Homo sapiens: one gene and its partners. Each later gene encodes a partner of the first gene's protein in a complex. Each region holds a gene or a part of one and is shown in the gene's direction. Other genes may lie near its edges. The genes, in order: DRC5, DRC3, DRC4 and DRC8.

The links.
Region 2: DRC5 (region 1) and DRC3 share a complex: the UniProt entries of both Homo sapiens proteins name them as parts of the nexin-dynein regulatory complex.
Region 3: DRC5 (region 1) and DRC4 share a complex: the UniProt entries of both Homo sapiens proteins name them as parts of the nexin-dynein regulatory complex.
Region 4: DRC5 (region 1) and DRC8 share a complex: the UniProt entries of both Homo sapiens proteins name them as parts of the nexin-dynein regulatory complex.

What each region holds. Positions count from the first base shown.
Region 1 is NC_000006.12:44,287,687-44,294,713, reverse strand, and holds part of DRC5 (dynein regulatory complex subunit 5), read left to right. Parts: intron 1-1,896; exon of another isoform or gene 1,897-2,236; intron 2,237-6,795; 5' UTR 6,796-6,888; coding exon 6,889-7,027. UniProt on the Homo sapiens protein: Component of the nexin-dynein regulatory complex (N-DRC) a key regulator of ciliary/flagellar motility which maintains the alignment and integrity of the distal axoneme and regulates microtubule sliding in motile axonemes.
Region 2 is NC_000017.11:18,010,856-18,017,410, forward strand, and holds the end of DRC3 (dynein regulatory complex subunit 3), read left to right. Parts: intron 1-4,203; exon of another isoform or gene 4,204-5,208; coding exon 5,209-5,340; exon of another isoform or gene 5,341-5,345; coding exon of another isoform or gene 5,346-5,405; intron 5,406-5,702; coding exon 5,703-5,816; 3' UTR 5,817-6,034; downstream 6,035-6,555. UniProt on the Homo sapiens protein: Component of the nexin-dynein regulatory complex (N-DRC) a key regulator of ciliary/flagellar motility which maintains the alignment and integrity of the distal axoneme and regulates microtubule sliding in motile axonemes.
Region 3 is NC_000016.10:90,025,663-90,032,689, forward strand, and holds part of DRC4 (dynein regulatory complex subunit 4), read left to right. Parts: intron 1-1,972; exon of another isoform or gene 1,973-1,973; coding exon 1,974-2,060; intron 2,061-3,236; exon of another isoform or gene 3,237-4,239; intron 4,240-5,513; exon of another isoform or gene 5,514-5,636; coding exon 5,637-5,834; intron 5,835-7,027. UniProt on the Homo sapiens protein: Component of the nexin-dynein regulatory complex (N-DRC), a key regulator of ciliary/flagellar motility which maintains the alignment and integrity of the distal axoneme and regulates microtubule sliding in motile axonemes.
Region 4 is NC_000001.11:245,014,669-245,021,695, forward strand, and holds part of DRC8 (dynein regulatory complex protein 8), read left to right. Parts: intron 1-2,213; exon of another isoform or gene 2,214-2,307; coding exon of another isoform or gene 2,308-2,311; intron 2,312-2,573; coding exon 2,574-2,658; intron 2,659-7,027. UniProt on the Homo sapiens protein: Component of the nexin-dynein regulatory complex (N-DRC), a key regulator of ciliary/flagellar motility which maintains the alignment and integrity of the distal axoneme and regulates microtubule sliding in motile axonemes.

The sequences.
Region 1 (7,027 bases):
TGCAACCTCTGCCTCCTGGGTTCAACCTTCATTTTTTTCCCCTAATTATCTTATAAACCACCTCTTTCAGCCTCTCAAGTAGCTGGGATTACAGGCATGTGCCACCATGCCTGGCTAATTTTTGTATTTTTAGTAGAGACGGGGTTTCACCATGTTGATCAGGCTGGTCTTGAACTCTTGACCTCAGGTAATCCACCCTCCTCGACCTCCCAAAGTGCTAAGACTACAGGCATGAGCCACCATATCCCGCCTCCCTTGCCCCTTTTCTAACTTTGCTTTTTGTATCTGAAACTCATTCACACTAAGGTGTGGAATACATATATCCTGATATCTTATATGTAGTCATGTGTATTATATATGTAATTTCTGCACACTTAAACTGTCAGAAACAATATATTACAACTTCTACTTTTTAAAAAGTTTGCTACATTAGGCTGGGTGCAGTGGCTCACGCCTGTAATCTCAGCGCTTTGGGAGGCCAAGGCGGGCAGATCACCTGAGGTCGAGAGTTCAAGACCAGCCTGACCAATATGGAGAAACCCCGTCTCTACTAAAAATACAAAATTAGCCAGCCGTGGTGGTGCATGCCTGTAATCCCAGCTATTCGGGAGGCTGAGACAGGAGAATCACTTGAACCCAGGATGCAGAGGTTGCGGTGAGCTGAGATTGCGCCATGGCACTCCAGCCTGGGCAACAAGAGCGAAACTCTGTCTCAAAAAAAAAAAAAGTTTGCTACATTAGTGTCAGTATACATTTTATGATTTACTATGCTTTTGTTTGACCTAAAATGATGAGATATGTTTTTAAAAAGCAGTTCAAGGTTAACATATGGATATAGGCATACAAGTATTGATATTAAATTTTGTTTCATTTAGGGGGAAAATGCATTTACCCTAACAGGGATGAAGACTGTACATTAGGGCCGTGAAATTCCCCTAGTGGAGTGCCAAAGGCCTGGGAGCGCACTTAGCCCGGGGAGGCCCTCCCCACTTCCCAAGGAGCAAGAATATGCTTTCTTCTTGCCTAGTGGAGGGCAGGAACAGTGAGGGGAGGGGGACATACTGAGTGACTGTGGAGGGGTAGTGTATTGTGGCTAGAGGTAGGAGACCTGCCCTCAGACGCTGGCCCCAGCTCTCATAGGTGTTTTAGGGCCAGTCATTTCCTGTTTCCTTGTTTCTTCATCTGTAAAATGGGGATAAGAAAGCCCATCCTAGCTCCATTATAGGGTGGTTGAAGAGTCACATGAGAAGATTTTTTTTATTTTTTAGAGACGGCATCTCACTATGTTGGCCAGGTTGGTCTTGAATTCTTAGCCTCAAGCAATCCTCCCACCTTGGCCTCCCAAAGTTCTAGGATTACAGGTGTGAGCCACCACACCCAGACTTTTTTTTTTTTTTTTTTTTTTTTGAGAGGATAGTTCTGAAAGGACCTTGAAAGGACCTTGTAACTGTTAAGTGCTGGACAGTTGTAAGGTGCTGATACTGTCCCAGCCCTGGAGAGATGGGATGTGAGACTAGAGGCTCAATGTAGTCAAGAGAGGAAGAGGCCACAGGAGTGAATCAGGTCCTGTGAGTAATAACCTGGGGGCCTTTGGCCATTCTCAGCTATCCCATTGAACTCTTTCATCTACTGATTGAGGATTTTTCCCATATTTTCACTCACCAAACTGTGAGCCTTTTGGTCAAAATGGGGCAGGACCTTTTGGTCAAAAGGAGTAGAAACCCAACTCTTAGCTTTGGCAAAGGGACTTATTAGAAGGCTGCCAAGTTAGCTCTCAGAGCTGAAGGCACTGCCAAAGAGCCAGACAGCTCTGGGAGCCTCCAGAACTAGGCATGGGGATTGAAGATACCAGGATGCTGTCTCTGTCTATCTATCGTTTCTGCTGGTCTCCCCCAGGCTTGATTCCCTCCCACCGCAAACAGACCTTGTACGTGTGGAGAGAAATGACTTCCAGCAGCAGGAGATCCAGATCCTTCAAGGACATATGTCCTTCTGTCTCCCTCCACTTGGACAAATCTCAAGAAGGACTCCGATTGGCTTATATCAGATAGCCACCCCCCAACAAGTTGCCCTGACCAATAGACACTCCTTTTGGCCAGAATCTATTATCAGAAGCCAGTGGAGCCGCCCCAAACACCAGCTACCTCGCCTAAAGCAGACCTACCACTGGGCTAGAAATTGGAGACAAAAATGAGGAGGAGACAGCCCCTACACCTCAAGAAGCTCACAGTCTAGTGTGGGTGTGGGGAACGGGTGGGCAGTCAGGTTACTGGAGTGATGCAGGTACTGGAAAGATGGGGTCTGACAACGGGAGGGGTTGTTTTGGGGTATCAGGGACAAAGAAGCACCTTGCCTTCAGAGAGGAAGTGGTGCTTGAGCTCAGACTCAGAAGACCAGTGATTGTCCCTTTCCCTGGCTGAGGTGGTGGGAAAGGCATTTCAGAGGGAACAACTTGAGCAAGGGCTGGGCAGCATGAACTGGGCTGCAATGTCCCAGATGCAAAGAGGAGCTTATTTCCAACAAGGTGTCCAGCCACGGAGGGCCTTACACACCAAGGTGAGGAGGCTGGATTTTACCCAGTGAGCAGTGGTGAGCTGCTAGAGGGCTTACATGGAGCCTGCCACAGCGGCTGTGTGAAGGCTAGATGTGAGAGAACCAGACTGGATGCCAGAGACCACATGCCTAACAGCTGAAGCTGTGATCCAGACAGACACTGGGGCCCTGAGCTAAGGCAGCAGCAGGAAAGGAGAGGCTGCCTGGGTGGGAGACAAAACTGAATCAGTAACTAGATGGTGGGGTGGGGCGGGAGGGCTGAAAGAGAGAGAGGTGACTCCCTGGTTTCTGGTGCCGGCATCTGGATGGATTGAGTTTGAGGGACCTAGGCAGCATCCCAGTGGACTTGAGTCTGGAATGCAGATGTAGGAGAGTCTGGCATTACACCACCACCCCCTAGCCTCACCATCCTGGTAACAGTACCCTCTGCTTCTCCTGGGATGTCACAGCTGGGAAACCCCACCTGGAAGAGGTGAAAGCTAGAACCCATCAGAAGGAATGAGTGGACGACCATGGCGGAATTCTGAGGGACCTTGGCACGTGAGAGATGGGCAGAGGGAGAGAAGTCTGTGGTGAAGACTTTTGGAAAAAGAATGGTCGGAAAGTAGGAGGAGAGCCAAGAGAGTGGCACGCCAAAGGGTGTCCCCCAAGGGCAGGGGTCAGAAGGCAACCTGCCAAGGGAGGAGCCATACTCCACATCCTCATAACAGTGACAGCGGGGCAGCAAGGAGTTAGTTTTGCTCGTTATCCTTTTAAATATACTTTGTTTTCTATGTTGTTAGTTTAAAAAGTAGATTTTTTTAAACACTTAGAACTAAAATCCTCCTTAGAAGAATCTTGTGTGTCTGGTAATAATTTGCCTGCCAAAATATTTTTGTGATATCCATTTTTAAAAAATCAAGAGATGATTAACTGAAAATTATCAACTCTGATCTTATGCAATTAATTTTTTCAACATTTGCCTTAAAATGACATCAGGCCTTATGGTATGGATGTTCCTATAAAGGCTGAAGGTAGTAGGGGCTCATTTTTATACCAGCCATGCACACGGCAGCCATGTGATATGGAGCGAGGCCCTGCCCCTTCCTTCTGAGAAGTTGGTTCAGGGCCCTGGAACATGCCCCGATGGGTCCTGCTGTGTCATGCCCAGAGGCAGGCTGCAGGCACAAAACAGCAGCAAGACCAATTAGGACCAGATCGTAGGAAGAACTCCAGGTCCTGAAAGTGAGGTGCTAGACGGTGGGACTAGAGTCACCTGATTGCAGAGGCATCCCACCTGGCCCCAGGTGGGGTTTCCCAGGTGTGGCTCCCCAGGAGAAGAAGGAGAAGGGACTGCCTGCCAGTATGGTGAAGCTGGATGGTGCTGTGAGGAATGACTAAAGAGTCAACTCCAGGGCAATGCACACCAGCAACCTGGGGCTCCCCCTGCCAAGCCTGGTCCTGCTCCCTGGGTGTGGCCCATGGGTGTCCAGGGACATATCTGGGACCAAGGGAAATTATAGAATGTTTTAGGCCAAAACCAAGCAGGAGTTGGGCTGGCCTGTTGCCTCTGACCTTCCTCCTTTGCCTCTGTCGTACTGTCTATGAGCCCCCAACACCACCCTGCCTCCTTGCCCTTCACATCACTCCTGGAAATAGGGAAGGGCCTCAGAAACTTTGCACTCACCCAAAGATACCATCTCAGGTCAGCACTCAAGAAGCAGGTCTCCTGGATGTGGTCTCTGCAGCCTCAGACCCCTGCCCCTCATAGTACCTTCACTCTCCACACACCCTGTATGCTTTACAATGATCAATATTAACCGACCATTATCTCAGGGGGATCTCCACTACAGCCCATGTAGGAAGATATTATTATCCAGTTTCTCAGATAAGGAAACTGAAGCTCAGATAGGTTAAGTAACTTGGCCAAGGTCACAAAGCACATAACTGACAAAGCCAGAAATGCAAAGTCAGCCGGTACCACTAAGCAGCAACCCCCTCCAGCCCTACACTCTGAGATGCCATTAGTCAAAAAGCACTATCTGGTTATTCCACAATTCTGGACACAATCTGTGTGTGAATTTGCATTTGATTTGCATAGGGGATGTCACAATACCTAGATATCTTTCCCGCACTATCTCTCTCCCTGCCACCCGCCTCTCAACCAGGCTTTTCCTCCTTGAGATGCCTGGCAGGCTGGGAAGCACCATCTGGTCCCTCCCTCTGCCAAGGACGCCTTTGCTGGTTCAGAGTGTTCCCTCCCACCGGCCACTACCCAGTGCACTGAGTCGTGAGGGTGCACATCTGATGGGAAACTGCCTGGAGGAGGAACTAGGTGCCAGCAGCCCCATTTGGGCTTTCCTCCAGCAGATCTCAGGGCAGGAGTGCAAGGGTGCAGGAATGGGCAAATGGGGGAGGGTCCCCGGACCAAGACACATCCTCTATCTTCTGTCTTCAGCCCCAGATTTAGCTGTCTTCTCGCCTCCCACGCTTGCCCACTGCTGTCTGGAATGCTGGGAGGCTGGGAGAGCTAGAGGAAGACTGGATGGGGAGATGGAAGGGAAGGGACCTGGAGTTTGAGCTCTCAGTGGGAAGGAGGAGAGAAGGGTGCTGGCACCTTGGGCAGGGCATGGGTCTTGTTCCCCTCTCCTTTCTCTCTCAACCTGCACTCTCTGAAACAGTAGCCACATTGAAACGGTAGGCTCAATGTGCCCATTGAGCCATCAAATTTTGAAGACCTCATATGAAAACATAGTATATAAAATGTCGCATTAATAATTTTATATTGATTATATGTTTAAATAACATTTTAGACATACTGGGCTAAATATAAAATTAATTTCATGGTCAGGCACAGTGGTTCACGCCTGTAATCCCAGCACTTTGGAAGGCTGAGGTGGGTGGATCACCTGAGGTCAGGAGTTCAAGACCAGCCTGGCCAACATGGTGAAACCCCGTCTCTACTAAAAATACAAAAATTAGCTGGGGGTGGTGGCAGGCGCCTGTAATCCCTGTAATCGGGAGGCTGAGACAGGAGAATCACTTGAACCCTGGAGGTGGAGGTTGCAGTGACCCAAAATCGCGCCATTGCACTCCAGCCTGGGCAACAAGAGCAAGACAAAAAAAAAAAAAAAAAAAAGCTAATTTCACCTGTTTTTCTTTTTTTTTTTTTTTTTTTTTTTTTTTTTGAGACAGAGTCTTGCTCTATCACCCAGGCTGGAGGGCAGTAGCACAGTCTTGGCTCACTGCAACCTCTGCATCCCAGGTTTAACTGATTGTCATGCCTCAGCCTTCCGAGTAGCTGGGACTACAGGTGCCTGCCACCCTGCCCAGCTAATCTGTGTATTTTTAGTAGAGACAGGATTTCACCATGTTGGCCAGGCTGGTCTCAAACTCCTGACCTCAAGGGACCCACCCACGTTGGCCTCCCAAAGTGCTGGGATTACAGGCATGAGCCACCACGCCCAGCCTTGTTTCTCTTTACTTTTTAAAATGTGGGCACTAAAGAAGTTAAAATAGCATATGTGGCTTGCATTTTGGCTTGCATTATATTTCTGTTGGCCAGAGCTGTTCTCAACCCCATCCTACGGATCAGGCAGTTGCTGTTCTATGAAATACTTAGTGCAGGGTCCTGTTATGAGCTGAATGGCTCTTTATTATATCTGTGTCTTTTGGCAATATACACCCCTCACCCTCAGAGGGCCGGTCCAATGTAGGGTTCAGAGCATGAATTTGACAGACTGAATTTAAACCCACCCGTGATACTTCTAAGCTGCATGACATTGGGCAAGTCAATTAGCCTCTCTGCTTCAGTTTCCCAGCAGAAAAATGGGAATAATACAAGCACCTATCTGAAAAAGCCTTTTCTGAAAAAGGCTTTTCTGAGGACACATGAATTAATAGGCATAAAGAACTAAAAAGATTGTCTGGCACAGAGCAATTACTGTAATTGCTGTAGAGCTATTATCTAAAATTTGGGGCTGCTCCTTGCTAGTTTCATGTGTCAGATACTATATTATGCCCTTTGGATGCATTATTTTATCCACTCCTCCAAATAATCCTACTGGAACTGCGACCTTCATTTCTCAGAGGCAACATCTGAAATTCAGAGAGGTTCAGTAACTTGCCCAAGGCCACACAGATAACTTGGATCTGCTTCACTCCAGGGACTGATCGTTAAGCACTATTCTGTACCACCTCTCTTAGTAAATGCCCACCAAGACCCACCAAAGTAACACCTCTACCCTCTTCCTTTTGCTCCAGATCCCTACCTGTTTCAAGGACCTGCCAGTCTGAGAAGCTTCTTGTCATAAGGCCATCCAGGGGCCACGCACCCCTACCTTGCCAGCCTCCAGCATGCAGGATACCGTAACGACATCAGCATTGTTGGACCCCAGCCACTCCTCAGTCTCCACCCAGGACAATTCCTCCACTGGAGGACACACTTCAAGCACAAGCCCACAGCTCTCAAAGCCTTCAATCACACCAGTCCCTG
Region 2 (6,555 bases), on another chromosome or scaffold:
TGGAAGAGATCTATCTCTTCTCCCCGCCCATCAAGTAGTCTGAGATCATTGACTTTTTCCTGGGGGCCTCTCTCAAGGATGAGGTTTTTTTTTTGTTTGTTTGTTTGTTTGTTTGTTTTTGAGACGGAATTTTGCTTTTTTGCCCAGGCTGGAGTGCAATGGCATGATCTTGGCTCACGACAATCTCCACCTCCCAGGTTCAAGTGATTCTCCTGCCTCAGCCTCCCGAGTAGCTGGGATTACAGGCATGCGCCACCATGCCCAGCTAATTTTGTATTTTTAGTAGAGATGGGGTTTCTCCATGTTGGTCAGGCTGGTCTCAAACTCCTGACCTCAGGTAATCTGCCCGCCTCAGCCTCCCAAAGTGCTGGGATTACAGGCGTGAGCCGCCACGCCAGGCCTAGGATGAGGTTTTAAAGATTATGCCAGTGCAGAAGCAGACCTGCCCCAGCCAGCGCAGCAGGTTCAAGGCGTTTGTTGCCATCAGGGATTACAATGGCCGTGTCACTCTGGGTGTTAAGTGCTCCAAGGAAGCAGCCACTGCTGTCAGAGGGATCACTGTCCTGACCAAGCTCTCTACTGTCCCCGTGCAGAGGCCACTGGGGGACCAAGATTGCAAGCCCCACACTGTCCCTTGCAAGATGACAGGCTGCTGCGGCTCTGTGCTGCTGCACCTTATTCCTGCACCCAGGGGCACTGGCATCCTCTTGGCCTCTGTGCCCAAGAAGATGCTGCTGATGTCCAGTATTGACAACTGCTACACCTCAGCCAGGAGCTGCAGTGCCACCCTGGGCAACTTTGCCAAGGCCACCTTTGATGCCATCTCCAAGACCTATAGCTACCTGCCCCCTGACCTCTGGGAGGAGACTGTGTTCACCAAGTCTTCCTCTCAGTAATTCACTGACCATCTTGTCAAGACCCACACCAGAGTCTCTGTGTGGAGGACTCAGGCTTCAGCTGTGGCTACAACACAGGGTTTTGTTTTGAGATGGAGCCTTGCTCTATCGCCCAGGCTGGAGTGCAGTGGTGCAGTCCTGGCTCACTGCAACCTCCACCACCTGGGTTCACATGATCCTCCTACCTCAGCCTCCCGAGTACCTGGGACTACAAGCGCACACCACCATGCCTGGTTAATTTTTTGTATTTTTAGTAGAGATGGGGTTTTACCAATGTTGGCCGGCCAGGCTGGTCTCAAACTCCTGACCTCAAGTGATCCGCCCACCTTGGCTTCCCAAAGTAACACAGGGTTTTTATATAAGAAAAATAAAGTGAATTAAGCCTGTTTAAAACAAACAAAAACACAGATACATAAACCAATGAAACAGAATAGAGAACTCAGAAATTAATCTATATATTTACAGCCAACTGATTTTTGACAAAAGCGCCAAGAACACTCACTGGGGAAAAGACAGTCTCTTCAATAGATTTTGCTGGGAAAACTGGATATCCATATGCAGAAGAATGAAACTAGATTCCCATCTCTCACTCTATACAAAAATCAACTAAAAATGGATCTAAGACCTACATGTAAGACCTGAAACTGGCAGGGCGCAGTGGCTCATGCCTGTAATCCCAGCACTTTGGGAGCCTGAGACAGACAGGTCGCTGGAGCTCATGAGTTGGAGACCAGCCTGGGCAACATGGCAAAGACCCACCTCTCTATAAAAAATACAAAAATTAGCTGGGCATGGTGGTACCTGCCTATAGTCCCAGCTACTCAGGATGCTGAGGTGGGAGGATGGCTTGAGCCCAGGAGGTGGAGGTTGTAGTGAGCTGAAATTGCACCACTGCACTCCAGCCTGAGCAATAGAGCCAGACTTTGTCTCAGAAGAAAAAAAAAAAGACCTGAAACTATAAAATGACCAGAAGAAAACAAGAGAAATGCTTTAGGACATTGGCCTGGGAAAAAATTTTATGAATAAGACCTCAAAAGCACAGACAACAAAAGCAAAAATAAATGGAATATATCAAACTATAAATCTTCTGCACAGCAAATGAAACAACAGAGTGAAAAGACACCCTACACAATGTGACAAAATATTTGCAAACTACTTATCTGACAGGGTATTAATATCCAGAATATACAATGAACTCTAACATCTCAATAGCAAAAAAACAAACAATTCAATTAAAAACATCTGAACAGATGTTTCTCAAAAGAAGACATACAAATGGCCAACAAATACATTAAAAACTTTTCAGCATCACTAGTTATCAGGGAAATGCAAATAAGAACCAGAATGAGGCATCATCTCACCCCACTTAGGATGATAATTATCAAAAAGACAAAAAATAACAAATGCTGGTGAGGATGCAAAGAAAAAGGAACTCATATACTGTAAGTAAGAATGTAAACTAGGACAGCCACTAGGAAGAACATTGTGGAGGGCCCTCAAAAACTACAAACAGAACTATCATATGATCCAGCAATCTCACTACTGAGCATTTGTCTAAAGGAAAGGAAATCACTATATTGAAAACATATCTGCACCCATGTTTACTGCAGCACTGTTCGCAATAACAAGATACAGAATCAACCTAGGTGTCCAACAACAGATGACTGGATAAAGAAAATGTGGTACCTATACACAATGGAATACTATTCAGCCATAAAAAAAGAATGAAATCCATGGCAACATGGATGGAACTGGAGGACATTATGTTAAGTGAAATAAGCCAGGAACAGAAAGTTAAACACCTCATGTTCTCACTCATATGCCGAAGCTAAAAAAGTTGATCTCATAGAAGTAAAAACAAGAACAGAGGCTTCTAGAGACTGGGAAGGGTAGAGAGATGGAGGAATAGGGAGAGATTTGTTAAAGGATATACCAAATTACAGCTAGATAGGGGGAATAAGTTCTAGTGTTCTATACCACTATGGGATGACTATAGTTGACAATAATATAGTTTCAAATAGCTAAAAGGAGGATATTGAATGTTCTCAACACAAAGAAATGATAAATGTTTGAGACGGATATGCTAATACCCTGATCTGATCACTATACATGATAGGTGTTGAAACATCACTATGTACCCCATCAATATGTACAGTTATTTGTCAATTTTTTTAATGCCAATTTTTTTTTTTTTTTTTGAGGTGGAGTTTCACTGTTGTTGCCCAGGCTGTAGTGCAGTGGTGCAATCTTGGCTCACTGCAACCTCGGCCTCCCAGGTTCAAGCTATCCTCCTGCCTTAGCCTTCCAAGTAGATGGGATTACAGGCACCCGCCACCATGCCCAGCTAATTTTTGTATTTTTATTCACCATATTGGCCAGGCTGGTCTTGAACTCCTGACTGAGGTGATCCACCCACCTTCCCGCCTTGGCCTCCCAAAGTGCTGAGATTACAGGCATGTGACACCGTGCCCGGCCAGTGCCAACGTGTTTAAACAAAGAAGTTGCTTTGAAAGAAATGTGTCTTTACAGCCACAAGGACCACAGAGCAGGGCAACAGCTCAAAAAAGACTCAGGAATACCTGTTTGCACAGCCCCTGCCTCCACCCTAGTGCTTTCAACCTGCAGAAACTGGAGAGGGATCTGGAATATTCTACCCATAAAAACTATTCTAAGAGGGAAAATTGAAGTAGCCACCACTCTAGGCCACCCAAAGTCCAGAAACAACTTGTAACTCACATTTCAAAACAATTCCCTTAAACCCAGTTTCCTTTTGTTTTCATTTTACAAATGTCACACAGTTTTTCATAACCAATTCTAATCATGTATGTTTCTAAGCAGATTTCAGTTTCTGTTGCTTCTCACAGCTTTTGAAGCTGTTTTCTACATATTCAAACTCTGAGGGGTATGATTTCTCTGCCTGGCTTAGAGCTCCACTATGACCCACCTTTTAGAATGAAGGATGAGAACCTTTTCGTGATGGGTTGACACTGTGGTTGTAGTTATCTCTAAAATAACCAGGACACCCACTCCTAAGCACACTGCCAAGGCTCACCGAAAACAGGCTTTACACACCTTTGAACCATTCCCAGAGCCTGGCCTGGGACCTTGTACACACATGGAAAGAACTTAATAATTTCTTGACATTTCTCCCTTGTGACTGTGCTAATTGGTCCCCCAGACACCCCATTCCACATATCAGCTAACCTGGCTTTTCCCACATGAGATTATGTGGAAAATCAGCATCCCACAAGACATTAACAGGCATTACTCTGAAGTCTGTAGCCAAAAAAGTTGGAAAACCAAGAGAGACAAAGCTTAAAGGGTTTATTTTCCACAGGACTTTGTAGAGCCTTCAGAATACTTTGTGCCCAGCAAATCTTTAGGAGGGGCCTAGGATGTGCTGGCTTTCCCAAATGTATTTGACCAAAGAATACTTTTTTTGGCAGAAATATTAACATCTTAAGATTGCACAGAACGTTTTAGAGACCATTAAGTTAACTGCCACTACAGGAAAGAACAAAAAATGCACACTCCACTTGCAAATCCTCCCTGCAATACAGAGCATTCAGGTGCTCTGCCTTACCAAGCGCCTCTGCTTCAAGGTGGAAGCAACTGCTTACTGAGTGCTTCAGTGGCCTTGCCCTGCTCTGGGAAATGACTCCATTTCAACCATCCCAGGCAACAATAGCCACAGTGTCAACACCTAGAACCAGTGAGGCCTATTAGAAGGTGGTTGTTTCTAACAACTTTTTACAAGACAGCAAAGTCAGGAACAAGAGAAGGCAGAAGGATACTCCAAATGGAATCCAAAGTTTGGTTTTGTTGACATGAGTGGCAGTGGAGAGACAACTGTGGGGTGAACACCCATGAGTTTGTAGGGCCTGCTGTCTTCAGAGCAGCCTCGAGACCCTCAGCCAGCCTCATGCTTCCACCCAGCAGGCAGAGGTTTTGGGCAAGTTAGACTTGAGAGTAATTGAGAGAGAAGCATTGTGAGAACAGATGTCCTGGGTGAGGTGCCCCCTGGGCAGCCATCTGCCTTCACCCTGGAGGAAACATGCTTCCAGCGGGGACTGCAAAGTAACACCCTGGTTGGCCCTTTCCCCACAACACCTGCCCTGTGCAGTTGGGGAAGCGGCTGTCACAGATGAATTCACAGATGAATCGGCAGAGTGCGCTGATACAAAGGTGGGCTCTGCTCTGAGTGTGGCCTGCACAGCCAGGGGACTTCCAAATGCTCCTTCTCTGTTCAGCTCCCTTTGTGTTCACGGTATAATGACACACACTTTCTCATTGGATTCTTTTCACTCACCAGCTTTTTGTCGATAAAGATACGATTGTTAATGCTGTCGGGGCATCGCACGACATCCACCTCCTGAAGATTGACAATCGAGAAGATGAGCTGGTGACCAGAATCAACTCTTGGTGTACACGTTTAATAGACAGGGTGAGTCAATCCCAAGCCATCCTAGCAGGCTGGATGAACTTTTCTAGCTGACATGGAAATCCTCCCTAGGTAGTGGATAGAATTTTCATTAAGGAATGAAATGAAGGAAGAAATAAAATTAAGGATTATAGAATTCCACACTGAAGACAACATTGCCCAGAGACTTTAAAACCCATGGGCTTCATCATTTTCCTAATTCCTACCTCAAATATACAGAGATCAGCAGAACCTGGGGAGGCGCTGAAGCAAATGAGGTTTGCAGATCTAAAGGAACTATTTTCCCCTTCCCTCAAACTGGATTCAGTGAAAGATATTAACCAATGATCTGATGTAAGGAATCGGGCTTTGGTTTCACTCCTCAGATTCACAAGGATGAGATCATGAGGAACCGCAAGCGCGTGAAGGAGATCAATCAGTACATCGACCACATGCAGAGCGAACTGGACAACCTGGAATGTGGCGACATCCTAGACTAGATGAATGTCAGCCACAGGAGCTTCTTCAAAACATAGCACCAGCCCCAGCCAGGAGAAGGAAGTGCACACGCCTCACCCGCACCTCTAGAGAGTTGCTGGGCATCTCTCAACCGCGATCCCCAACACCATTCTTCCCCCACCCCTGGAAAAACTTCCAAAAGTAGAGAAAATAAAGGACTCATTTCACATTTCCCCTACTCATAAAAAAAAAAAAAAAATCAGCTGGGTGCGGTGGTTCACGTCTGTAATCCCAGCACTTTGGGAGGCCGAGGCATGCAGATCACGAGGTCAGGAGTTCGAGACCAGCCTGACCAACATGGTGAAACCTTGTCTCTACTAAAAATACAAAAATTAGCCAGATGTGGTAGCGTGCACCTGTAATCCCAGCTACTCAGGAGGCTGAGGCAGGAGAATCACTTGAACCTGGGAGGCGGAGGTTGCAGTGAGCCAAGATCGCACCACTGCACTCCAGCCTGGGCGACAGAGCGAGACTTCGTCTCAAAAAAAAAAAAAAAAAAAAAAAAAAAAAAAAAAAAATGTTCATGTAGGAACAAGAGAAAGAGTTTGAGATGAACAGCCGGTCCCAGGCCAGCTGACAGAGCAACTCCCAAGGGCACTGCCATCAGCTAGATTCTTGGCTGTGGCATAAAGTCAGACACGTGCCCCTGCCGTTTCCCCTGCCATGCCTAGGCAGGCTGCCAGCCACAGGCAAAAGGAGGCCGGTGTGGGCTAAGACCTT
Region 3 (7,027 bases), on another chromosome or scaffold:
AAAAAAAAAAAGAGAGTTCAAGACCAGCCTGGCCAACATGGTGAAACCTCGTCTCTACTAAAATACAAAAAAAAATTAGCCAGGCGTGGTGGCGGGCACCTGTAGTCCCAGCTCCTCGTGGAGGCTGAGGCAGGAGAATTGTTTGAACCCAAGAGGTGGAGGTTGCAGTGAGCCAAGGCAGCCTGGATGACGAGGGAGACTCCATCTCAAAAAAAAAAAAAAAAAGATAAATGGATTTAGGTTTTAATGTTTTTAAAAAATAAATAAAATTTCCACATGAAATTTGTAATTTTAAAAACGTTACATAGCTGGGCACAGCAGCAGTGAACTCCTGTGGTCCCAGCTCCTTGGGAGGCTGAGGTGGGAGTATCAGTTGAGCCCAGGAATTGGAGTCTGCAGTGAGCTATGTGATCACACCACTGCACTCCAGCTTGGGCGACAGAGCAAGACTTTGTCTTTAAAAAAGGTTACCGAGACATGTAGACACAGAAAAGCATGGGCTGAAGACTACTGGGAGTAGCAAAGTCAGCAGGATAGGATATGGAAATTTGTTACCTGCTTGAGTGCCCTGTAAATGGGTGGCCAGACAGAACTGCTCCTGGTGTCATGCGTGGTTTCAGCAACTTCCACAAGGGGGTGGGGTTAGAAGGTTCTCTCCCATCCTTGTCAAAGTTGCTAAAACCACGCACGACGCCATGTGCAGTTCCGTCTGGCAGCCCATTTACAGGGCTCTCGTGGTGGGTGCTGTCTGCCCAAGCTTTCTTGACCAGGCTTCTCTGAAGGAAGTTTCTCTTTGAAAGAAAGGAAACTTGTGGTTGTCACAACCGATCGTGGTTATGGAGGCATTTCTCCCTAAGCTTACTGAATGGTGTCTTGCAGGTCTTTTCCATGGTGGTCACCAATGTTGCCGCCAGCATGGTAACATTTGGCAGTGTGGTATTGAGGGTCTTTCCTCTGTTTTGCATCCACAGCAGAGGTCTTTACTTTTTACCAAGGAGTGAGTGGGTTTGGAATGGGTTCCCCCCTCTCTTAGTTTTTGGAGACGGGGTCTCGTTCTACTGCCCAGGCTGGAGTGCGGTGGTGCACCATAGCTCACTGCAGCCTTAAACTTCTAGGCTCAAGTGATTGTCCTGCCTTGGCCTCCCAAAGTGCTGGGATGACACGTGTGAGCCACTGCGCCTGGTCACCGTATACCAAGGAATGAGTGGGTTTGGAATGAGTTCCCTCTCTTTTCTTTTTTTTTTTTTTTAAGTTACAGTTTGCTTTTTGAGATGGAGTCTCACTTTGTTGCCCAGGCTGGAGTGCAATGGTGGGATCTTGGCTCACTGCAGCCTCTGCCTCCCGGGTTCAAGCGATTCTTCTGCCTCAGCCTCCCGAGTAACTGGGACTATAGGCACACACCAGCACACCTGGCTAGGTTTCCTCTCTTTTTTTTTTTTTTGAGATGGAGTCTCACTCTGTCGTCCTGGCTGGAGTGCAGTGGTGTGATCTCGGCTCACTGCAAACTCCATGCCCCAGGTTCAAGCCATTCTCCTGCCTCAGCCTCCCGAGTAGCTGGGACTACAGGCGCCCACCGGCACGCCCGGCTAATTTTTTTTTGTATTTTTAGTAGAGATGGGGTTTCACTGTGTTAGCCGGGATGGTCTTGATCTCCTGACCTCGTGATCCGTCCACCTCGGCCTCCCAAAGTGCTGGGATTACAGGCGTGAGCCACCACGCCCGGCTCCTCTCTTTTCTAGAAGGAATGTTCTCCTTCTCAAAAGGAAGGTTTCTCCTTTGTGCTTCTCCAAATGCAACAACAGGATGTGTGTGTGGTAAAGGGTGGGAACACTCAGGGCAATGATGTGCTCCAGGTGAGCAGAAGGGAGAGAGGTTCCAGAACCTTCTCTGCCAAATGTTCCTGGGAGCAAATCAGAGCCAGCCAAGAAGGGGAAGCTGTTAGAGTCTCTCTTACCCCATTATTTCCACCAAAGGCACCGAAAAAGAAAGGGAAGAAAGGCAAAGCCAAAGGCACCCCGATTGTCGATGGGCTCGCTCCAGAGGACATGAGCAAGGAGCAGGTGAGCAGAGCGGGCTGTGGCCCAGTCCCCGGGTGGGCGTGGGCGGGCACCACGCAGGGTGCCTACGCCGAGTGTCCATCTTGCCATGTGGATCCACCCTTCTGTCCAAGCCAGAACACGCCCCCCGCGTGGCCCATAATTCCCATCAGCGGCAAAGCTTTCGGCTGCACCATGTCTTTTCAGAAAGGTAGTGCAGCCTGTGAAAGAGCTTTGTAACAGGGTGGTAGGAGTGTGGAAGGACATGCTTTTCTGATCTAAAAGCTGTTTTTAATTTCGTGTATTCTCTTTCAATCTTACCCTTTTTTTGCACCTGATGTGTATAGACTTATCGTAGAACACACATGTAGCATTCTCCTTTATTTTATTCACCATTAAACATTATGTCAAAAAGGAAGTTTTTGAAAGAAGGATGATTTACTTCAAATCACATCTGAATCTGATTAATCGTTCATTTTTTTTTTTTTTTTTTTTTTTTTTTTTGAGACGGAGTCTCACTCTGTCGCCCAGGCTGGAGTGCAGTGGCGCGATCTCGGCTCACTGTGAGCTCCACCTCCCGGGTTCACACCATTCTCCTGCCTCAGCCTCCCGAGTAGCTGGGACTACAGGCACCTGCCACCACGCCTGGCTAATTTTTTTTTTGTATTTTTAGTAGAGACGGGGTTTCACCGTGTTAGCCAGGATGGTCTCGATCTCCTGACCTCGTGATCCACTCGCCTCGGCCTCCCAAAGTGCTGGGATTACAGGCATGAGCCACCACGCCTGGCCAGTCATTCATTGTTTTTGATAAAAGTCCCAACAAGGAGTAACAGCATCAGGGCTGCCTTTTTCTTGTTGCTTATTTTGGGGAGGAGGTGATGTTTTTATAGTTTCTTTGTAGGAGTTAGTTTAAGTCTCTTCTTCATTTGGATGTAGTTAAGGGCTACAGAACATAATTACATAATTACAATTTTACCTAAAAGGCTCCTGGAGACGGCAGTGTGTGGCAAGCACGGTGCACCCTCTGGCCTCTGCCCTCATGGACGACTGCCTGTGAGCACCTGACATGGGACATGAGGGCTGTGTCAACTCTGTGTTATTGTTAATAAATCTTACCTTCTTTTGATAGTTGTAAGATAAAAAATCAATACGAAGGAGACTGAAAGAGTCTCATGACCTGAAGTTGGAGCTAGGCAGAGGTCCTTGAACAATGGTAAAGAATGGCTTTATTTTACATGCAGGCAAACCATTGGCAGTTTAAGCCAGTGGCTAAGCAGAGAGGTGATGGGGTCAGGTTTGTGTTCTGGAAAGATGTCTGGAGCTGCTGGATGGAGAATGGATTGAACACTGCGTTGTCCCAGCATGTGAGCTGCTGCCCGTCTCCCTGTCCGCTTCCCATTCCTGTGGAGACAGGCCTTGTGGGGCAGTGGCCATGGAGCCTACGGGGCAGCCTACGGGGCAGGCTACGGGGCAGCTTACGGGGCAGGCTATGGGGCAGCCTACGGGGCAGGCTACGGGGCAGGCCCTTGCACTGCACATCGCACGTTGAGCCACAGACTCAGAAGGCTTCTTCAGGGTCCAGGCAGGTGGGGAGGGATGGGGGTGACCTGGAGACTCCTGCCCCGCAGCAGAGGACAGTTTCATCTGTTCACTGGGGAGTGCCTTGTGGGCCTAGGAGTTCAGTGCTGTTTTTTTCTGATTTTCCAAGAGAAGCTGGAAATCTGGATATTTATAAGAAATCTGAATATTGAGTGATGGCAAAATCTCAACACCATGTGAGCCAAACAGACCAGTCAGGAGCCCTGGTTCAGGCTCTGCCCAGGAGCCTCTAAAGGTCTGTGACGTGAAGACATTTGTCGTTGTGCCGAGGCACTGGTTGGATTCGGGGGTGCGTGTCTCCCTCATGTCTGCCCGGCATCCTCGGCTCAGAACCCCTCCTGCTGCTCCTTCTTGTTTGCTCGTTGTCTTGTCTTCTTTTGAGGTGAGAAATGTGTTTTCCCTGTGGGGAATGTGGTGTTGAGAAAGAAAAAGGCTCACAGTAAGTGGCCTGGGGCTGTGCCCGAAAAGTAACTGATTCTGACGGAATCTCGCTGTGTGGCCCAGGCTGGAGTGCGGTGGCGCGACCTCGGCTCACTGCAAGCTCCACCTCCTGGGTTCACACCATCCTGCTGCTTCAGGCTGCCCAGTAGCTGGGACTGCAGGTGCCTGCCATCACGCCCGGCTAATTTTTTTGTATTTTTAGTAGAGACGAGGTTTCACCGTGTTAGCCAGGATGGCCTTGATCTCCTGACCTCATGATCTGCCTGTCTCTGCCTCCCAAAGTGCTGGGATTACAGGTGTGAGCCACCGCGCCTGGCAGTAACTGATTCTTAAGGGAAATGAGCTCCCGAGAAAGCTGGAAGCCTGTCCTACATTTTTTTTTAACCTATTTGCAGATTCGCAATTGAACCCTCTTGAGATTTTAGAGTCTACTGGTTTTGTATATTTTTTGCTTAACATTATATCTTCAAAGGTGAATTTTTTTTCATTTAGCATTATGATATGAATTTGTTTAAATGCTGCTACATCATTTGCATATTTTTTTTGGGTTAATGTGATATTTCTCCTAGTTGATATACTCTAATTTTTCAACCATTTCCATATTTATTTATTTATTGTTTAGAGACAGGGTCCTGCTCTGTCACCCAGGTGGAGTGCAGTGGTGTGATCACGGCTCACGGCAGCCTTGACCTCCCAGGTCCAAACGATCCTCCTACCTCAGTCTTCTGAGTAGCTGGGACTATAGGCATGTGCCACCACTCCTGGCTAATTTTTTTTTTTTTTTTTTTTTGTAGAGACAGGGTTTTGCCATGTTGCCTAGGCTGTTCAACTCTGGGGCTCAAAAGATCCTCCCAAAGTGGTGGGAGCCACCATGCCTGGCTGTTTGTGTATTTTTTGAGACAGATTCTCACTCTGTCACCCAGGCTGGAGTGTAGTGGCATGATCATAACTAACCGCAGCCTCAACCCCCTGAGCTTGAGTGACCCTCCCACCTCAGCTCTCCCAGTAGCTGAGACTATAGGTGCGTGCCATCATGCCTAGTTAATGAAAAAAAGTTTTTGCAGAGATGGGGTCTTGCTATGTTGCCCAAGCTGGTCTTCAGCTCCTGGGCGCGAGGGATCCTTCAACCTCAGCCTCCCAGAGTGCTGGGGTTGCAGGCGAGAGCCACCGCGCCTCGCTTATTTCCCTGTTTAAACTGGTCTTAGGTTATTTCCTTTTTGATATTTTTGCTGTTGTAATAATGGTGTGGGTAATATCTTTGAGCAAGATGCTCTTATATTTCTTTTGAGAAATTTTTTAGGCATCAATTCTCAGGAATGGATGAAAGGATCTAGTTATTTTATGATTATTGGCCAAATTGAAGAGAATTCTGCCACCTGCTGAATGCATTCTGTCTCCGGAGCTTCCTAGCCTTATATTTTAACTTTTTACATTTAGCTGTTTATTTTTAGGTGAAGTTGAGTCCTCCCTCTTTCTTCCTTGCCTTTCGCCGGCCACACGCCCCGTTGCCGTGCATGGGCCCCTGCTCAGTGCCTCACCTGACCCACTGCACCTGGCCAGGTGGAGGAGCATGTCAGCCGCATCCGGGAGGAGCTGGACCGCGAGCGGGAGGAACGAAACTACTTCCAGCTGGAGCGGGACAAGATCCACACCTTCTGGGAGATCACACGGAGGCAGCTGGAGGAGAAGAAGGCTGAGCTGCGGAACAAAGACCGGGAGATGGAAGAAGCCGAGGAGAGGCACCAGGTGGAGATCAAGGTGAGTGGGGCCGGCCTGCACGTGCTAACCTGGTCACCACAGAGCCCCAGAGGAGCTGGATCCAGTGAGGGTGCAGGTGGGACATTTTCTGTTCTTGGCTTTGGGAGTCACAGCCTTAAAGGTGTTTTTTATAAAAGCCTGAGGGAGAGACCCTGCAGGTCCTGAGGGTTTAAAATGCTGCCTCCACAACATGGAAGGAATATGGGCTCTGGGGGCAGACTGGCCTGTTTGCAACTCAGCTCTGCCACTTAATACCCCATGAGCTGGGGATGCACCTCACCTCCCAGCCTTGGTGTCCTGCTCTGTGCCTCAAGTGTACAGGTTTGCATAGGTGAACAGGCATGTGTAGCTGTGTAAAGGTGAGGCATGCAAGTGAGCAGGTGGATGCAAGTGAGCATGTGTGTGCAGGTGAGGAGGCGTGGCCAGGTGAGGAGGTATGTGCAGGTGAGGTGTGGGGAGGTGAGCACGTGGGGCAGGTATGTGCAGGTGAGCAGGTAGGTGCAAGTGACCAGGTGTCTACAGGTATGTACAGGTGAGGAGGTGTAGTACAGGTGTAGTGCAGGCGACCAGGTGTGTACGGGAATTTACAGGTGAGGAGGTGTACAGGTGACCAGGTGTGTACAGGTATGGACAGGTGAGAAGGTGTGGTACAGGTGTGGTGCAGGTGAGCAGGGGGGTACAGGTATGTACAGGTGAGGTGTGTTACAGGTACGGTGCAGGTGATCAGGTGTATACAGGAATGTACAAGTGAGGAGGTGTGGTACAGGTGACCAGGTGTGTACAGGTATGGACAGGTGAGGAGGTGTGGTACAGGTGTGGTGTGGGTGAGCAGGAGTGTACAGGTATGTACAGGTGAGGAGGTGTGGTACAGGTGACCAGGTGTGTACGGGTACGGACAGGTGAGGAGGTGTGGTACAGGTGTGGTATGGGTGACCAGGTGTGTACAGGTATGGACAGGTGAGGAGGTGTGGTACAGGTGACCAGGTGTGTACGGGTACGGACAGGTGAGGAGGTGTGGTGCAGGTGTGGTATGGGTGACCAGGTGTGTACAGGTATGGATGGACAGGTAAGGAGGTGTGGTACAGGTGACCAGGTGTGTACAGGTATGGACAGGTGAGGAGGTGTGGTACAGGTGTGCTATGGGTGACCAGGTGTGCACAGGTACGGAAAGGTGAGGAGGTGTGGTGCAGGTG
Region 4 (7,027 bases), on another chromosome or scaffold:
TGGGGTGTGGGGGGAGAAGAGCAGGATTGTTCAAATGAGGAAGATCTGAGTTCAGTCCAGCTCTGCCACTCAATAACTCTGTGATCTTGGGCAAGGTGCTTAGCCTCTCTGAGCTTTGGTTTCTTTTTTTCTCTACGGTTGTAAAAGTATATACAGTACCTGACGTAGAACCTGGTGTATAGTGTTTATTCAGTACATATTTGTTGAGTGAGTGAATGGTAGTTATTCAATGCCATATATAAAAGAATATGTATGAAGAAAGATTGGAAGAAAATACAGCAAAATGATGAGTAGTTATGTTAGGGGGAAGAGAATTTGACTGATTTTAAAATTTCCTATTTTCTACTATTGGGTGGTATTATATTTCTAATTGAAATAATTACCTAAACTCATGCCTAATCTCTTTCTTTCTGGGTGTCCTACTGTATTTACTGTTTGATACATTTTGACACCTTTTTCTTTTCTTTGAGACAAGGTCTGGTTCTGTCGCCAGGCTGGCGTGCAGTAGTGTGATCATGGCTCACTGCAGCCTCGACCTGCTGACCTCAAGCAATCCTCCTGCCTGGGCCTACCAAACTGCTATAGGCATGAGCTCCCATGCTTAGCACAATTTAGAGACTTAATTACATTATTGTCCTTTATTCTTTCACTCAGCCAAACACCTTGGAGTTGGCCTTAACCCTTTTCTTTCTCTCTGCACCTAACATAAAATTTATCAGCAAATCTTGTTGGCTCTGCTCTTTAGAATATATCCAGAATCTGCCGGGCGCGGTGGCTCACGCCTGTAATCCCAGCACTTTGGGAGGCTGAGGCGGGTGGATAATGAGGTTAGGAGATCGAGACCATCCTGGCCAACATGGTGAAACCTTGTCTCTACTAAAAATACAAAAAATTAGCTGGGCATGGTGGTGTGCGCCTGTAGTCCCAGCTACTCAGGAGGCAGAGGCAAGAGAATCGCTTGAACCCGGGAGGTGGAGGTTGCAGTGAGCCGAGATCAAGCCACTGCACTCCAACCTGGGCAACAGAGAGAGACTCTGTCTCAAAAAAAAAAAAAAAAGAAAGAAAGAATATATCCAGAATGCTGACATTTCTCACCACCTTCACTGCTACCATTCTGGCCCACATCTCTCACCTGGAGTATTGCAGAGGCCTCCTGACTGGTCTCTCTGCTTCCACCCTTTTCATAATAGCCAAAGTGATCAGCAGACCGCATCACTGTGCTGCCTGGAAAAACCCTTCAGCGGCTTCTCATCTCATTCAGAGTAAAAGCCGAAATCCTTAAAGTAGCCTACAGGGCTTTTTTTTTTTTTTTTTTTTTTTTTGAGATGGAGTTTTGTTCTTGTTGCCCAGGCTGGAGTGCAATGGTGCAATGGCGCAATCTCGGCTCACTGCAACCTCCGCCTCCCAGGTTCAAGCAATTCTCCTGCCTCAGCCTCCCAACTTGCTGGGATTACAGTTATGCGCCACCATGCCTGGCTAATTTTGTATTTTTAGTAGAGACAGGGTTTCACCCTGTTGGCCAGGCTGGTCTCAAACTCCTGACCTCAGGTGAACCACCCTCCTCGGCCTCCCGAAGTGCTGGGAATACAGGTGTGAGCCACCGCACCTAGCCAAGGCCTCTTTACAATCACCCTCAAACTCATACCTTTCTGATCTTATTTCTTACTCTTCTGCACTTACTGTTCTCTCTGCCTGAAAACTCTGCAGTTGTTCATAAGGCTGGTTCCTTCCCCTCCTTCAGGTGTCTGCCCAAGGGTCGCCTTACCACAGAGGCAGGCCTCTCTAAGACCACCGTATCAACCCATTCTCCCCCACCCACGCCCAGCACTCCTCGTGTCCCTACCCTGTTTATTCCTTCCTCTATTTCTCACACCATTTGCCTTACTATGTATTTTATCGAATATTACGAGCTTATATTTCTTTCCCAATAAAAGTAGCTCTATGGAGGCAGGAATTTTTTTCTATTTTGTTCCTTGCCATAACCTTAGCACATTGTAAGTACTAGGTAACTGTTTACTGAATATATATATGAGTGTTTCATATATGTAAGTCATAGTCCAAAACTAGTTTGAAAGCTTTTTGAGTAAATGTCATGTTGGTTTTTATGCCTTTCTTCCCCCAACTCCACAAGCAAAGAATAAGGCAAGGTAGGCAGGGAACACTGTTGATAAGCAAACAGTATCTGTTTTTATTGGTTTCACTGTGCCTCTCAGGCTACGACTCTACCCAAAGGACTTGAGATAGAGAGGCCGCTGCTGGAAATATTCTGTCACCGTGATTGGAGTGGTTGAGTGGTTCCATGAGTATATGCGTATGTAAACACTTAATTAAGCTGTGTATTTAAGATCAGTGCACCTTTACCATATGTATATTTTGCCTCAGAAAAAATGTTTACAAATACAGTGTATCCTTTGACATCTCCAGAGGAAGTTAAACATGCTAAATGATACATAAATATAAGGAGAGGGTTCTTCATATGCTTACTTATTAAGATTGCTAGTCTGGTTATTAGAATTTTTGTTTTGAATTCAAAGCTAAAGTAAACTAATTTTTATTTACTTTGTCTTTTGCAGAGATAATAGTAGCAGAATTTCACAAAAAAATCAAAGAGGCATTTGAAGTCTTTGACCATGAGTCGAATAATACAGTGGATGTGAGGTGTGGAAATATTTTTTTTTTTGTTACACTTTTAAATTACTGATACAAGTCATAAGATACAAGAGAGCTATTTTCTCTTTTTACACTGTACCTTGGATTTATTATGCTCTTTTAAGTATTTATTTTCCATGCTCCGTAAAAGGTCTTTGCTAGCTATTGCTTTGATAAGTACTGTTTCTTATTCTTCATACTCTGGTAGAAACAATATACTGTATTCTCATTGCCTGTTCCAACCTATAATTGTAAACTCTGTGACTGAGATGAACTCTATTTTAGCTTTAGTGCTTGGCACATAGTTGGTACTCAGGAAATAGTCGTTGAGTGAAGGAACAGCATTTGCTTTGTAAAACACATAAATATGTATTATAAGGCCACAAATAGGATATTGCAAGGAAACAGTAATGCTTATGCGATGACACACTCCCCCTGTAAAATAGCAAAAAGAACCCAAACAGAAGAACATAAAAAGGCAAGAGAAGACATGAATACTGGTAGGTCTGAAATGGAGGACACAGCTTGGGACTGAAACAAAACAAACAAAAAACCCCTTAAGAGAAGAGATTAGACGCTAATAAGAATTGTAGGGTTTGTGCCACACACATCAAAGAAAAGCAATGAAGCCAGGCGTGGTGGCTGACACCTGTAATCCAAGTACTTTGGGAGGTCAAGGTGGACAGATCACCTAAGGTCAGGAGTTCAGGACCAGCCTGACCAACATGGTGAAACTCTGTCTCTACTAAAAATACAAAAACTAGCCGGGCACGATGGCAGGCACCTGTAATCCCAGCTACTTTGGAGGCTGAGGCAGAAGAATCACTTGTACCCGGGAGGCAGAGGTTGCAGTGAGCTGAGATCATGCCACTGCACTCCAGCCTGGGCGACAGAGCGAGACTCTGTCTCAAAAAAAAAAAAAAAAAAAAAGGCAATGAAACCATCCTTTCAGGAGGCCGGGCTAAATGAGGGTTATTTGATGAGATTGCAATCTCAAGACCAGAACCTAGTAGAGAGGCCAGCAAAGCAGTGGGAAGTGGTTTGAAAATGGTTCTGGAAAGGAACTGTTTGATGCTTATAAACCAGTGCCATCAGAGCTGCAGCACCATACAGCTCCGGTGGCTGTGGTCACATTGCATTCTGTGGGAATGACATTGTGGAACACCAGGCCTTCCTGTGGGTATCCCAGTAGGAAATGAGTGGGCAGGGTGCTGGTGGTGGTGGTAGGGTTAGGGAGGGGGTGCAGCAGGCAGCCCGGCCTGCAATTTGAATAACTAACTACATGAATGACAAGTGCCTTGACCTCAGACCTCTCCTTGAAGGGTTCTCCTCCTGGGGGCGGGGGACAGAGGTATTGTTAGAGAAGTCAGGGAAAGTATGGCATTATGAGAGAGAGGGAAAAGAGAGAAAAGAAACCAGCATCTGCTTGAGGCTTGTCATCTAACACACTACGTGTAGTTGGGTGCCAGAGGCTTCACGTGGATTACCTCATTTTAATCTTTTTATTTATGGGTTAAGGGTTGGCATCTCCGGTTTCCAGAGACAAGGAGAAGGTAAATCGTTTGCTCCATGTCACACCAGGTTTCTCTAACGCCAAGTCTCTTGCTACACTGTGGGCATGCCACACTGCCCACACTCCCACTCCTACTCTTTAGAGACATCAGGGGCTTCTCTTCTGCCTTCAGGCTTCCTGACAGTAGCAGTGAAAAGAAAATCTCCCGATCACTGACAGCAATGATGCCAGGCCTTTTTTGGTAAAAGGGCCAATTCAGTAAAAGAAAACGTGTTTATGGGCTGAATCTTTTTTTCCATTGAAAGTTAAAATAACTTTACCGAGGCCCTGAGGGAAAGTGGATGTTCTTACAACCTAAAGAGTCTGCTTTGTTAATTAAAGATGGTTACTAAGAAAATTGTTATTGTTTTTAGCATTAAAATATTGCTGCTGAGTATATTTGAGGAATAACAACATGGATGAATGTAGCTTTATAATTTTTCCTGTGTTAATTTGTATATCACTTTAAAGTTTATAATGAATGTTCTCATGCTGCTGGTATCATTACCATCCACTCTTTTTAAAAAATTCGTTTAAAGATAGGGTCTTACTCTGTCCTCCAGGCTAGATTATAGTGGCTTGATCATAACTCACTGTATGTAACCTTGAACTCCTGAAGTGATCCTCCTGCCTCAGCCTCCCAAGCAGCTAGGACTACCACGCCCAGCTAATTATTATTTCTTGTAGTGACAGGGGTGTTGCTATGTTGCCCAGGCTGGTCTTGAACTCCTGGCCTCAAGTGATAGACCCTCCTTAGCCTCCCAAAGTGTTGGTATTACAGGTGTGAGCCACTGCACTCGGCCACTCTTTATAAATTGGAAATTAAGCTTTGGGAGGCCAAGGTGGGTGGCTCACCTGAGGTCAGGAATTCAAGACCAGCCTGGCCAACATGGTGAAACCTCATCTCTCCTAAAAATAAAAACTAAAAACTAAAAAATAAAAATAATTAGCTGGGCATGGTGGTGTGCACCTGTAGTCCCAGCTGCTTGGGAGGCTGAGGCATTAGAATCTCTTGAACCCAGGAGGTGGAGATTGCAGTGAGCTGAGATTGCACCACTGCACTCCAGCCTGGGCGACTAAGTGAGGCTTTGTCTAAAAATAAAAAAGAAAGAAGTGTCTTTGAACGGAGGGAGAGATATGTAATGGCTCAGTGGGGGCAGGACAGAGAGAGCTGTTCCTGGAGACGCCCCCCGCCCCCAGGCACTGGCTGTTCCTCCCCTAACTGCTTTATCCCTCAGGTGGAGGTTTGGTGTTACTTCCTGTGTAGGGCTGATCTAGGTCCCCTGAGAGGTCTAGGTCTTAGAATTTTGTGGTGGCTACTTTCCCTTTCCCTTATCTCTGCTTTGCACAAATTGAAATATTTGATTTGAAATTGTATTGCATTAGATAAAGGGAAAGTCTGGTATTCCAAATGCTGGGCAGCCACCAGCCCACTGTCAAAAGCATTATGAGCTGGGCTCCTGCTACTGCCCTTCCACCTCTGAGGGGCAGTCCTGAGGTCTGGAATCAGACTTCCTGGGTTCCCATCCCAGCTCCGTGACTGCGAGTCACTTTGTTATTCTCTTTGTGCCTCCATGTACCTTTGCCTCCTAGGTTTCATAGTATAAGTAATTAGTTCTCAGAGTGCCCCCAAGACCCTTTCCGGGGTCTGTGAAGTCATAACTATTTTCATAATAAATTTAAGACAGTATTTGTTCTTTTCATTCTCACTGTTTCCACAAGTATATACTGGAGTTTTTCTTTCTTTTTTTTTTTTTTTTTTTTTTTTTAGACAGGGTCTCGCTCTGTCACCCAGGCTGGAGTGCAATGGTGCAATCTCAGCTCACTGCAACCTCCGCCTTCCGGGTTCAAGCAATTCTCCTGCATCAGCCTCCCAAGTAGCTGGGATTACAGGTGCCCGCCACCACGCCCGGCTAATTTTCGTATTTTTTTTTTTTTTTAGTAGAGACGGGGTTTCACCATGTTGTCCAGGCTGGTCATGAACTCCTGGCCTCAGGTGATCCACCCACCTTGGCCTCCCAAAGTGCTGGGATTACAGGCGTGAGCCACCACACCCAGCCTTATACTGGAGTTTTTCAAAGGCTACATGACGTGCAGTTTTACAACAGATTGAACGCAGAACTAGATATGAGAATGCAGCTGTCCTCTGTGAAGCCAGGTGTTACATATTTACATTGAACGTATGTAAAACAATGTAAAACAATGCCATTCTTCTAAATATACTTTTTGTTTTGGAAAATATAGTTTAAAAAATTAACAACTATTTATGTAAACATTTGGGTTGATTTATGATTTTTAAATGAATTAATAAATACATATTTTTAAAATGTAAGCTTTAATTTCTAATATGATAGTAAATATAGATGCATATAACTCACACAAACATAGACGCTTTGAGCGCCTTGATAATTTTTGATAGTTTGTAAAAGGAGTTATCAGACCAAAAAGTTTGAGAACCACTATTGTGAGTGGACATTTTTAAAGCTCTTAGAACAATATTAGCTTGGGATTTAAAGCTAAGAACAGTATTAGCTATTATAATTATTCTACTTTATATATATATAGTTTTTATTATTATTATTTTGAGATGGCATCTCACTGTGTGGCTCAAGCTGGATTGTAGTGGCCCAATCTCGGCTCATTGTAACCTCTGCCTCCTGAGTTCAAGCAATTCTCCTGCATTGGCCTCCCAAGTAGCTGGGATTACAGGTGCCCACCACCACGCCCATCTAATTTTTGTATTTTTAGTAGAGACAGGGTCTTGCTATGTTGCCCAGGCTGTTCTCAAACTCCTGGCCTCAAGTCATCCGCCTGCCTCAGCCTCCC